Linked DNA regions of Homo sapiens: region 1 is linked to region 2. The links come from fine-mapping of genetic effects on gene expression. Tissue or cell type: whole blood. Region 2 holds a variant in brackets; the other region holds the start of a gene. All regions are shown on one strand. Distances are from middle to middle.

What was found. PIP is the estimated chance that this variant, and not a neighbour inherited with it, causes the effect.
Region 1: it holds the start of SGPP1, and the variant in region 2 is fine-mapped to the expression of SGPP1 in whole blood (INTERVAL, PIP 0.90).

What each region holds. Positions count from the first base shown.
Region 1 is chr14:63,725,210-63,731,019 of GRCh38, reverse strand. SGPP1 (sphingosine-1-phosphate phosphatase 1) reads left to right here and starts at 2,955. Exons shown (of 3, transcript NM_030791.4): 1 at 2,955-3,759. The coding sequence starts at 3,076. RefSeq lists enhancers at 2,464-2,653, 3,614-3,663, 3,308-3,809 and silencers at 2,864-2,963, 3,254-3,353.
Region 2 is chr14:64,170,206-64,176,015 of GRCh38, reverse strand. SYNE2 (spectrin repeat containing nuclear envelope protein 2) reads right to left here. Exons shown (of 116, transcript NM_182914.3): 94 at 5,554-5,788; 95 at 878-1,072. Among named protein-coding and RNA genes, the nearest start is that of MIR548H1, 78 kb to the right of the region's middle. The variant G/T (reference allele first, on the strand shown) is at 3,122.

The DNA.
Region 1 (5,810 bases), 440 kb after region 2:
ATCTTCTAATTATTTACCTAGCCTTCACTCTCTGACCTCTGACAATCGTCTTTGATTTCTTTCCCAGTTATCTTTCTAAAACACAGTTCTGATGGTGTCACTCCCTAGCCTAAAAGCCTTCCATGGCTCCCACTGCCTACAAAATTAAATCCCTTTGGTATTCAAGGATTTACAACCTAATCCTATCCTCCCTTTGTAATCCCATTTCCAATCACCCTTGCTACTCTATGCTATATGCTATTGTTTTTTGGTTTTTTTTTTCATTTTTTAATTTTTACTGTTTGAGACAAGGTCTTACTCTGCTGCTCAGGCTGGAGTGCAGTGGTACAATCGTAGCACCCCGTAACCTCTAACTCCTGGGCTCAAGCAATCCTCCCACCTCAGCCTTAAAAGTAGCTAGGGCTACAGGCATGTGCCATCACACTCAGCTAATTTTTTTATTTTTCTTTATTTTTAGTCTGAGTCTAGCTCTATTGCCCAGGCTGGAGTGCAGAGGCACAATGTTGGCTCACTGCAACTGCCACCTCCCAGGTTCAAGCCATTCTCCTGCCTCAGCCTCCCGTGTAGCTGGGATTACAGGCACCTGCCACCATGCCTGGCTAATTTTTGTATTTTCAGTAGAGATGGGGTTTCACCATGTTGGCCAGGCTGGTCTCAAACTCCTGACCTCAAGTGATCCACCAGCCTTGGCCTCCCAAAGTGCTGGGATTACAGGCATGAGCCACTGCACCAGCCCCCCACCTAATTTTTTAGAAAATATTTTTGTAGAGTCAGGGTCTTGCCATGTTGCCTAGGCTGGTGTCAAACTACTGACCTCAAGTGATCCTCCCACCTCAGCTTCCCAAAGTGCTGGGATCAAAGGAGTGAGCCACTGCACCTGGTCTCTATGGACTATTGTTTACCAAATACATTTTTGCATATCCCTATCTTCCTTCACTTTCTCTTCCTAAAATGGGCTTCTTCACCTATTCATATTTTGCTCTGTAAAACAATCCAGCTCTACAGGATCACCTCCTAACACCTTTCTTCCTGTTCCTAGTCAAACTTGTCCTCCTTTCTGAGGCATGCTGTTTATGTCTGTTTTACACTTGCCATCTTCTCTATACTCTAGAAGTAGTCCTGTCTTTCTTTATCTCCCCTAAACTGTGAACAACTTGAGAGCATGGGTGATGATTTATTCCTCTTTCTATGGCCACAGCCTAGCAAGTGGAGTGGGAGGAGGAGAGTACCTGTCCCTGCGAAATGAAATTTTTTTTTTTTTTTTTTTTTTAAGATAGGGTCTTACTCTGTTACCCAGGCTGGAATTGCAATGGCACAATCAGGGCTCACCGCAGCCTTGACCTCCCGGGCTTAAATAATCCTCCCGCCTCAGTCCCCCAGTTATCTGGGACTACAGGTGTGGGCCACCATGCCCGGTTAATTTTCTTTTTTTTTTTTTGAGACAGAGTTTCACTCTTGTTGCCCAGGCTGGAGTGCAATGGCGCGATCTCGGCTCACCGCAACCTCTGCCTCCCTGGTTCAAGCAATTCTCCTGCCTCAGCCTCCGAGTAGCTGGGATTACAGGCATGCACCACCCCGCCCGGCTAATTTTGTATTTTTAGTGGAGACGGGGTTTCTCCATGTGGGTCAGGCCGGTCTTGAACTCCCGACCTCAGGTGATCCGCCCGCCTTGGCCTCCCAAAGTGTTGGGGTTACAGGCGTGAGCCACTGTGCCCAGCCCTGCCCGGCTAATTTTGTTCATTTTTTGTAGAGGTGGGATCTCCCTATGTTGCCCAGGCTGTTGTCAAACTCCTGGACTCAAGCCATCCTCCCTCCTCGACCTCCCAAAGTGCTGAGATTATAGGCATGAACTACCACGCCTGAAGGAAAGTATTTCTACTGTTTTAAGGGCATGGGACAATTTCAAGCCTGTTTCTTGGAAGTAGTTCACATTCTTTAATTACAGACATTCACCTGATCATGGCGGGTGTGGTGGCTCACGCCTGTAAACACAGCACTTTGAGAGGCCAAGGCAGGAGAATCACTTCAGCCCAGGAGTTGGAGACCAGCCTGGGCAATATAGCGAGACCCTGTCTCATCTCTCTCTCTCTAGGTATATATAAAAGACATTCACCTGACCTGAGGAGTTCAGAGACCTTATAAACTGCTCTAGCTAGAAGTCAAGTTGGTAACTTGTGAGACACGGAAGTTAAGCGTCTAAATTAACGTTACCAAACTCAAAAATCTATACACTGCATTCATTCTCTACATTTATTCTGTGCAAGCCCTCTAGGTATTAGAATCTAGGAAAAGGAAATTTTACACTTAAGAACACCTGTGCTCCCTTAACATATACCAAAATATTTGATAAATGACACAGTATTTTGAATTTGTAGGTGGCTGGCTTTTCTTTTGCAGACCACACCTGTTAATATCACCTGGCCCTGTCTTGGGATCTACATGTAGTCTTGTCACCACTGGTCAATTGGCACATGGTTTTCCGAACATCAGTCGCCTGGGACAGCTCTGTAATTACTTGTTAATTACTTGAGTCGAATGATTCCGAACTCATGGTAGTTGCTTCGCCTTCATTGATCATTCACCATTTGGTTCTGTGCCAGCAGGATGCCCGGCTGCTTGGTCACAGGCATTGCGCAAGCTGGCACCGGGATCGTGGCCTCTTTAAGTCAACTTCTGGCTGAGGGAATCCGGCGACACTAGCCCGCGGAGAAGAAGGGCTGAAGGTGGAGCAGGGGGACACGCCGCGTCCCACCAGACGTACGCCGCGACGCCTGCTGGTGGATATTACCCGGGACCTCAAAGCGGCCGCCCGCCGATCCTCAGCGCCAAGCCACGGCCGGATGCGCTCAGGGCGGACCCGCGCGGCCCGGCCCCTCAGGGAGCCCGGGTGGGGGCGGGGCTGGGCGGGGCGGGGCGCGGCGCGCGCGGGGCGGGGGCGCGCGGCCTGTGGCGCCGTCACCCGGCAGACTCCGGAGGGTAGAGCGCTGTGCCGGTTCCGCTGCCGCTGGCCAGGAGCGCGGGGACAGTTCGGGGCTGCGCCGGAGGCCGGCCCGCCTTCCCGGGGGTTCCGTTATCATGTCGCTGAGGCAGCGCCTGGCCCAGCTGGTTGGCCGTCTGCAGGACCCGCAGAAAGTGGCCCGTTTCCAGCGGCTGTGCGGGGTGGAAGCGCCGCCGCGCCGCTCAGCAGACCGGAGGGAGGATGAGAAAGCGGAGGCGCCTCTCGCCGGAGACCCTCGACTGCGAGGGCGGCAGCCAGGGGCGCCTGGAGGCCCCCAGCCTCCCGGGAGCGACCGCAATCAGTGCCCGGCCAAGCCGGACGGCGGCGGCGCCCCCAACGGCGTGCGGAACGGGCTGGCGGCCGAGCTGGGCCCGGCCTCGCCGCGGCGCGCGGGCGCTCTGCGCCGCAACTCGCTGACGGGCGAGGAGGGCCAGCTGGCCCGCGTGAGCAACTGGCCGCTCTACTGCCTGTTCTGCTTCGGCACGGAGCTGGGCAACGAACTCTTCTACATCCTGTTCTTCCCCTTCTGGATCTGGAACCTGGACCCTCTGGTGGGCCGGAGGCTCGTGGTCATCTGGGTGCTGGTCATGTACCTGGGCCAGTGCACCAAGGACATCATCCGCTGGCCGAGGCCCGCCTCGCCGCCCGTGGTCAAGTTGGAGGTCTTCTACAACTCTGAGTACAGCATGCCCTCCACCCATGCCATGTCCGGCACCGCCATCCCCATTTCTATGGTCCTCCTCACCTATGGCCGCTGGCAGGTAGGGTTCCTTCTCGTCCTGTTCAGCCTGGGGGAGTTCAAAGAACTCGGAGTTCTCTTTGCTCTCTGCATTTATTTTAATTCGACCGTTCCCCTCCAAAGCCTCTCTTTCCACAGGTTTTCACAATACTCGCAAACAGGCCCTTTCTGGGTTTTGAAAAATTAAGTGATTGGGGGAAACTGGATACTTAGCCGTTGAATTCTATTTTAATATTAAATTCCAATTTAATGCCTTAGAACCCAAAGGACACACTTTTCCTAGAGTAATACATTGTCATTGGGCTTTGGTTGAGTTTTTTAAACGGCTTTAATTCTTGTAATGCACAGTGGAAGTGAATTTTTTAAATAATCGCTATGTAAACTAAGACCCAGTTTCACCGTAATATATGGTGCCTTCTTCCCTAAAACTGTTTCAGAAAGAGGTAAAGTCATTAGCTTTACCGTGAGACAGTGTTTACAAAACGTTAGTGTAATTCCAAAACAAACATGCTAGTTCCAAGCAATGAAGTAATCGATTTTCATCGAAGTTCCCTTTATGGAAGTTAATGGAGCACAGGGTGAGTTCTGTTTTTAAGGGGTGTGGTTGCTACTTTGCTGATAAAGTTTGATTATCTTCTGGATCACTAATCTGTAGTATCTAACAGTTGTTGAGCTACAACTGTAATACTATAGTGTTATTGCCTCATTAACTCTAAAAATGCATGGTTTAAAAGTTATTCTTAAAGATAGGGCTCTTGATCAAACTAGTGGGTTTATAAAAATGGCAAATATGACAGCAGGGTCAGCCTGACAATCAGGAAAATTTTTTTTTTTTTTAACCCTCTCTGAAAACTGCCAAGGGAAGAGTTTTTAATGGTAATCGTTTTTATTTTGCTTACTTCTTTTGGCCTTCCAATGTTTATCTGTCTTTGAACTGTAAGATTTGTTAATCCTGCAGACCAGTCCCTTATTTTAAGAATAAAGTGCGTAATTGTGGAGATTCTAAGGAAACAAACTTCCTCTATTTTTTCCCCCTTTACTTCACAAAATCATTTTACATTGAGAAATACACATTCTGTGTAAAACTCCATTATGATAAGCTTACTTATCCCACATTAAATTTCAGTGTAGATAAAATTTCGTCCCCATGGATACTTCTGTGTAGTGCATCTCTCTTACAGTACATGGAAAATACGCATTGTGCATAGTAAGAATGGCAGAATTAGGAGGAAAGAGTACCATGGGAAGTTTTTTTCTGTTTAACCAAAGGAGCTATACGGTGATGTTCAGATTGTGAAGCAGTGCTACCTGTTTTGCGTAACAGATAAATATCTCGAAGTTTTCATTTAATCTAAATATTTCAGAATTTAAGATTTTCAATGAGCTGTGTTTGGCCTGGTGATGTTAGCTGATGATGTTTCTCTTATTTTCGTGAGACTTTTAGGATTCTGTAACAATAGAGCCTTTTATGATGCCTTCTCAGTGAGTAGCTATTTTGTATGCTATTAGTATTAGCAGTCAAAGTAAGAGAAAATAGCTATTTTTGCTCTTTATTTGTTCTGGACACATACTAACTGGAAGTCTGAAAACAGTACTGCTGAATCGTTTATGGGATATTGATATTCTAACATTTCAGGGTTATTTGAATTATCAGAATAAGCTTAGATTTAGTTTTTAAACAACCTAGTATATTTAACTCAAAGTTTAAGAAATTTGCGTATCATAGAATTTTAGACTTTGAAGTAGACCGGATGTTAGAAATCACTTAGTTTCAAACTGTCATTTTACAGATGTGCAAACTGACCAGTTACATTAAAATTAATCTTGTAATGCTTTAAATTTCTTATTTTACATTTTTTCACTCTAAATTTGCATGATTTTTCGGTTAGTTGTTCTGAAAGAAAGCCTCCTGACGGAGTCTCGCTCTGTTGCCCAGGCTGGAGTGCAGTGGTGCAGTCTCGGCTCACTGCAACCTCTGCCTCCCAGGTTCAAGCAATTCTCTGCCTCAGCCTCCCGAGTAGCTGGGATTACAGGCGCCTACCACCACACCAGCTAATTTTTTAAGGATTTTTA
Region 2 (5,810 bases):
AAAGGAGAAGCAAAACCATGAGTTCTTCAAACTGTTATTTGCAATTATCATTATGCTTCACAAACATGGCAGATGCTTAACAAATGTTTGCTAGTTAATGAATTCCATATAGTCCATATATCAAATAAAATTCAGATACTTTATTCACAGGAGAAATTTTCAAGCCCTAACTCAGCATATATTTACTCTTAATTCAGAAAAATATGTCTGGTAAGTTTGGTTATCTAGTTTTGGCACACACGACAGACTAGAGAGAGTGGGCTATAAGAAGTAAGTGAGCTTGGAGAAAGACAAAGTAAAAATAGACAGTTTGACATTAAGAGGAGAGAAAGAAAAATGATAAAAACCATATCAGAACTCAAAGAGCACAGTAGTTCAGGGAGGGCCACAGGTTCAAAGTAATTCAGAGGCCTTGAGAACAACTTGGTATCTTAGCATAACAAAACAATAATGATTTTCCTAACAGTGACTCAAAATATAACACTGTAGTTCTTAAAGGTATAATCATACATTATTTGGAAAATTCACTTATATGGAAAAGTGCATTCTCTGATGATAGCAGAAAAATGAAGTGTTTCTGTCTGTTCCATACATGGAACATTAGTTTTATGTATTGAACTTTCATTGAATATGTTTCCTGTTTCATAAAAGTAAGTATCTTAATAGAATCTCAAGTATTTAAATACTAAACATTGAGCTCTTGCAATGCTATATCATCATTTCACATTAAGTAACTGGCATGACTTACAGATTACAGCTTGAGTTGGAAACTCATGATACTATAGTTTCCTAAAACCATTTCCATTTTCACACCACAAATGAAAATCTATGTACTGAATTTGAATATCATGAATGGAAAAGTAAGTGGTGAGTTTACCTCTACAGTGCTCTGGAACTGCTTAATCATCTCTGCCAGCTGGGGCTCCATGTCTTTCCAGCTGTCCTGAAGTTGACTGATTCTCCTACCCACAGACTCTTTAGTTTTCAGGTCAGTTGTGAGCAGTAACTTTTCTCCAGCTTCCAAGGTTAGGGCACAGGTAGTTCGCCTCCTTTGAAAATGAATTTCTTTATTCTAAGAAAAAAAAGAGAAGTAATTTGCTTAGGTTTCTGATGTGTTCAAAATGTGATTGTGTGTGCCTGTGTATATTTCCTTCAGAGCTTTTCTTAAGAGTTAAACTAGATATAAATTAGACAAATTGGGTCAGAATGTACATACACACACACATCAAAAGCTAATGTTTTACACTGAGTAGATAAGCATACCACTAAGTGAGGTGTTCTTAAAATAATTTCCAAAGATTGGTGAGATAAGATTCTCAGTGTAATGATTAGCAGCACAGAGAAATAAAAAAATATACATCATAGAATAATAGCCTGCAAGGTAAATGGATCTAAGAGTATTAAGAAAGTGAATGGAGTAACAGACCTGAAATCAAGTAACAGACCTTATATTACGCTAAACAAATGTAAAAGGAAAGAACGCGAGAAAGGGTAAAATACAAAAAATATACATTTCTTAAGCTTTTTATGAGCACATAAACATGTACATTGATGTGTGCCCCAAAGGCGCAGCTTTAAAAAATTTCATCCGAATATCATGTAGGCTTTCTGAAAATTAAAAACAATTTAAAAACAATAGTTTTAGACCCGAAGTGATGGCTCATGCCTGTAATCCCAGCACTTTGGGAGGCCAAGACAGGCAGATCAGTTGAGCTCAGGGGTTCGAGACCAGCCTGGCCAACATGGAGAAACCCTGACTCTACTAAAAATACAAAAATTAGCCAGGCATGGTGGTGGATGCCTGTAATTCCAGCTACTTGGGAGGCTGAGTCCCAAGAATCACTTTAACCTGGGAGGCAGAGATTGCAGTGAGCCAAGATCACACCACTGCACTCCAGCCTGGGTGACAGAGTGACGCTTTGTCTCAAGGAAAAAAAAAAAAAAAAATTTAAGAGACAAGGTCTTGTTTATTTTTATTTTTTTCTATATTTTAGTGGCGGTGTTACAGCTCCGTGACTGCTCCTGCAGAGCAGGGCCGCTCCGCAGGCAGTGTGCAGAGAGTAGCGAAGGTCCTGTTTTTTAAGAGATGCGCCACCACACCTGGCTACATGGGCGTTCTTTAAAGAGATTGAAACTAGGTATTTATAATACAAAAATAAAGTAAAAACTTTAAAATTGATCCATACTCCCAAAGGCATTTGGTTTTAGAGGAAAAATTAAATAGTTTTTGTCTGTTCTAAATATGTTTTCCTGGCTGGGCATTCTGGTGAGTGCCTGTGGTCCCAGCTACTCGGGTGGCCGAGGTAGCCTCACCAGAAGTTTGAGGTTACAGTGAGCTATGATCACGCCACTGCACTCCAGCCTGGGAGACAGAGTGAGTACCTATCTCTAAAAAAATAAGTAAATAAATAAATAATACATAAATATTATTTCCTTCACCTTGAAATTTCTTGAAGGAGACAAAGTGTGGGCATTTTTCCAAAATGGGAGCTGATAAACATCAACAGAGCATCACTAATTTACAAAGGCATTTCTGAGAAGCCTGAAGATCACCCATACCCAAAGGAGGAAAGCCAAATGCACCCTCAGGAGCAGCACACAAATAAGAGAAACAGCAACTGGACCACAGGCACTCCACGTGCATCTCTCCAACATATTGTGCTGCGCAAATGAGCCACTCGTATTAGACCTGCTCCTCCCTTAGTCTTCCCTAACTCTGTCAACAGCACACTATTCACCAAGATGCTTGAGCTTCAACCCAGAGTCGTCCTTCATCTAGCTTTTCCTTTACCAGACTCACAAACCGACACTCCAAAATACGGTGTTTTGACACGCTGAACTGAAGAAGTCTCAGGGTCTCTCTACCCTAACGCACTGCGTCTCCTACAGAAGCTGAAGTCCTTTATCTGCCTAAGACCCGGACTCACCAAGGAGAATGATTGTTTTTTCTTTCCCTCCCTGTTACCTCATTATCTTATTGCAGAAAAGAAGACCCAGATGTAACCACACCCAAATAGGCTCTTTCAAGATGACTGCCTCCAGCGATCACTGAAATTCCAAAGATAACCTTTTTTTTTTTTTCCAGACAGGTCTTGCTCTGTTACCCAGGCTGGAGTGCAGT[G/T]GTGTGACCATGGCTCGTTGCAGCCTCAACCTCCCGGGCTCAAGTGTGACCCTCCTGCCTCAGCCTCCTGAGCAGCTGGGAGTACAGGCGTGCACCACCACACCTGGCTAAATTTTGAATTTTTTTGTAGAGACAGGGGTCTCACTATGTTGTACACAGGCTGGTCTCAAACTGGGCTCAAGGGATCCTCCCACCTCGGCCTCCCAAAGTGTTGGGATTTCAGCCAATTCTCATCAAACTGTGGCACCTCTGTCCCCTCCTCTCAAACTCATGTGGACACATATGATAGCCTTCATTGTTAGAGTGTGGCAGAAGCGATATATGTGACTTCTGAGGTTGGGTTTATAGGGCAATACAGCTTGTTCTCGGGATAAGAATCTTTGAAACCATTGGGGTACCATATAAGAAGTCTGGCCACTGGAAGCCCTCACGTGGTAACACAACAGAGAATGATGCCCAAGGAGAGGAGCTCCACTGTCCCAGCTCCTTGCTGCTCCAGTTGTTCCAGCCTAAGCATCAGTCATGTGAGTGAGCTTCAGATGACACCAGCCCCAGCCACCATCTGACTGCAACTGCCTGAGAGACCCCAAGCAGGAACCACCAACTCCTGTCAACCCCAAGAATGACGAGACAGAATGATGAGTGTCATTATGCAGCGATAGGTAAGTGAGATGTTAGGATTCCTACTTTTCCTTTAGCTCCCCTACAATCAGGAACAGCCAGAGTGATCTTTAAAAAATATGGGGCTGGGCACAGTGGCTCACGCCTGTAATCCCAGCACTTTGGGAAGCTGAGGTGGGTGGATCACCTGAGGTCAGGAGTTCGAGACCAGCCTGGCCAACAGGGTGAAACCTTGTCTCTACTAAAAACACAAAAATTAGCTGGGCATGGTGGCGGGCGCCTGTAATCCCAGCTACTTGGGAGGCTGAGACACGAGAATTGCTTCAACCTGGGAGGCAGAGGTTGCAGTGAGCCAAGATCGCAACACTGCACTCCAGCCTGGGCGACAGAGTGAGACTCCGTCCCAAAAAAAAGAAAAACAAGCAAACAGTGTCATGCTGCCCTCTCCCTCAGCTGAAATGCTTCAAAGGCTCCCTGGTTCCAGCCAGACCAGGTAATCCAGCTGCCACACCCAACCTGCAAAACACTCCTCCCTACCCGCCTTTCTAGTTCACCTCCTGCCACTACTGCCTTGCCAGCTCTGCGCCAGTCACACTGGCCTTTTTGCCGTTCCTCTGTGCTGAGCTTGTTCTCATCTTGGGGACTTGGAGTAAGCCTCTCCTTCAGTCTGAAAGGCTCTTTCCTTAGATCTTGCATGGCTGGCTCCTTCTCATCATTCAGTCCCAGGTTAAATGTCACATGGCCAGAGACAACCCAATCTAAAGGAGCCACACATCCCCATCTCTACTGGCCCTGTTTTAATGATCTACGTAAGTCTTATTACAATCTGATATTTTATTATTTATTAATTTATCTGATTAATTATTCTGGTTTACTACTTTGTCTGCCCTTATGAGAGCGAAGGTCTTCTCTCCATCCACAGAATACACCCAGCACTTAGGACAGTGATTGGCACAGAGAAGGTACTCAATTAATATGCGATGATTGCATAATGAGTGAGGGCTGTACAGGATTTCAGGAGGGTGGTGTTTGTTGAGAGGCTTCTCTAAGGTGGAGAGTAGCTCTACAGCTCCATGGGACATGCCAACCACCTATGCTAATCCTGTGCTCATCAGGCAAGTTTCTTTTGGAAAGCTTTGTTGGCTGAATGAATTTGCCCCTTTATTTTTATTTTTTTTAAATCAGTTTTTAAAATTTTGTGAGTGCATGAGGTTTTTAAATATAGGCATGCAATGTCCAATAAGCACATCATGGAGAACGGGGTTTCCATCCCCTCAAGCATTTATCCTTTGAGTTACAAATAATCCAATTACACTCCTTAAGTTATTTAAAAATATATAATTAAATTATTATCGACTATAGTCACCCTACTGTGCTATCAAATAGTAGGTCTTATTCATTCTATTTTTTTTGTACCCATTGAATTTGCCCTTCAAGAGTAAACAATGCCATCACTGTACATTACTACACTAATGGTCAATTTATACATTAGTCAGTGGCTTAAGAATCTGGGTGGTTTGAGTCTGTTGCCCTAAACCTCCCCCAATTTATTCACCCATCTCCACTCCATGCCTCCTCTCATGGCCCAAGAGAACCCTAGTATTTCTGGATGAATGGGTAATATCGGGTTTCCAACCCCACAATGCTAGGGACTGGGCTGTGGGGGGTGGTGACTGCACCTTGCTGGCCTCACACTGCAGAGAGCCCACTTGGATCACATCATCATCAAAAACATTAAACCAAAGGTGAATGAACATCTTGCAAACAATGACCACCCTGTGGTTCTCACACTGCTACGATGCATACACTACCTTCAGCTCATGGATCAGACTTCTGGTTTGGTAGAGGCTGAAGCGCTCCTGGCCCTTCACTGCAGATAGCAGGTGGCTGGTGTCAGTGAGGAAGCGAAACAAGTTCTCCACAGAAGTAGTGAAATCTTGCCACTGCCTCACCAGCCCATCAACGTCACCCTTCCTCTGCCGAACACCCTGGACAGCATTCTGCCACCGATCCGTCAGCTTTGAGAATTCTGTAATAAATTCTGGTCTGGGGAAAAACAAATGGTTAT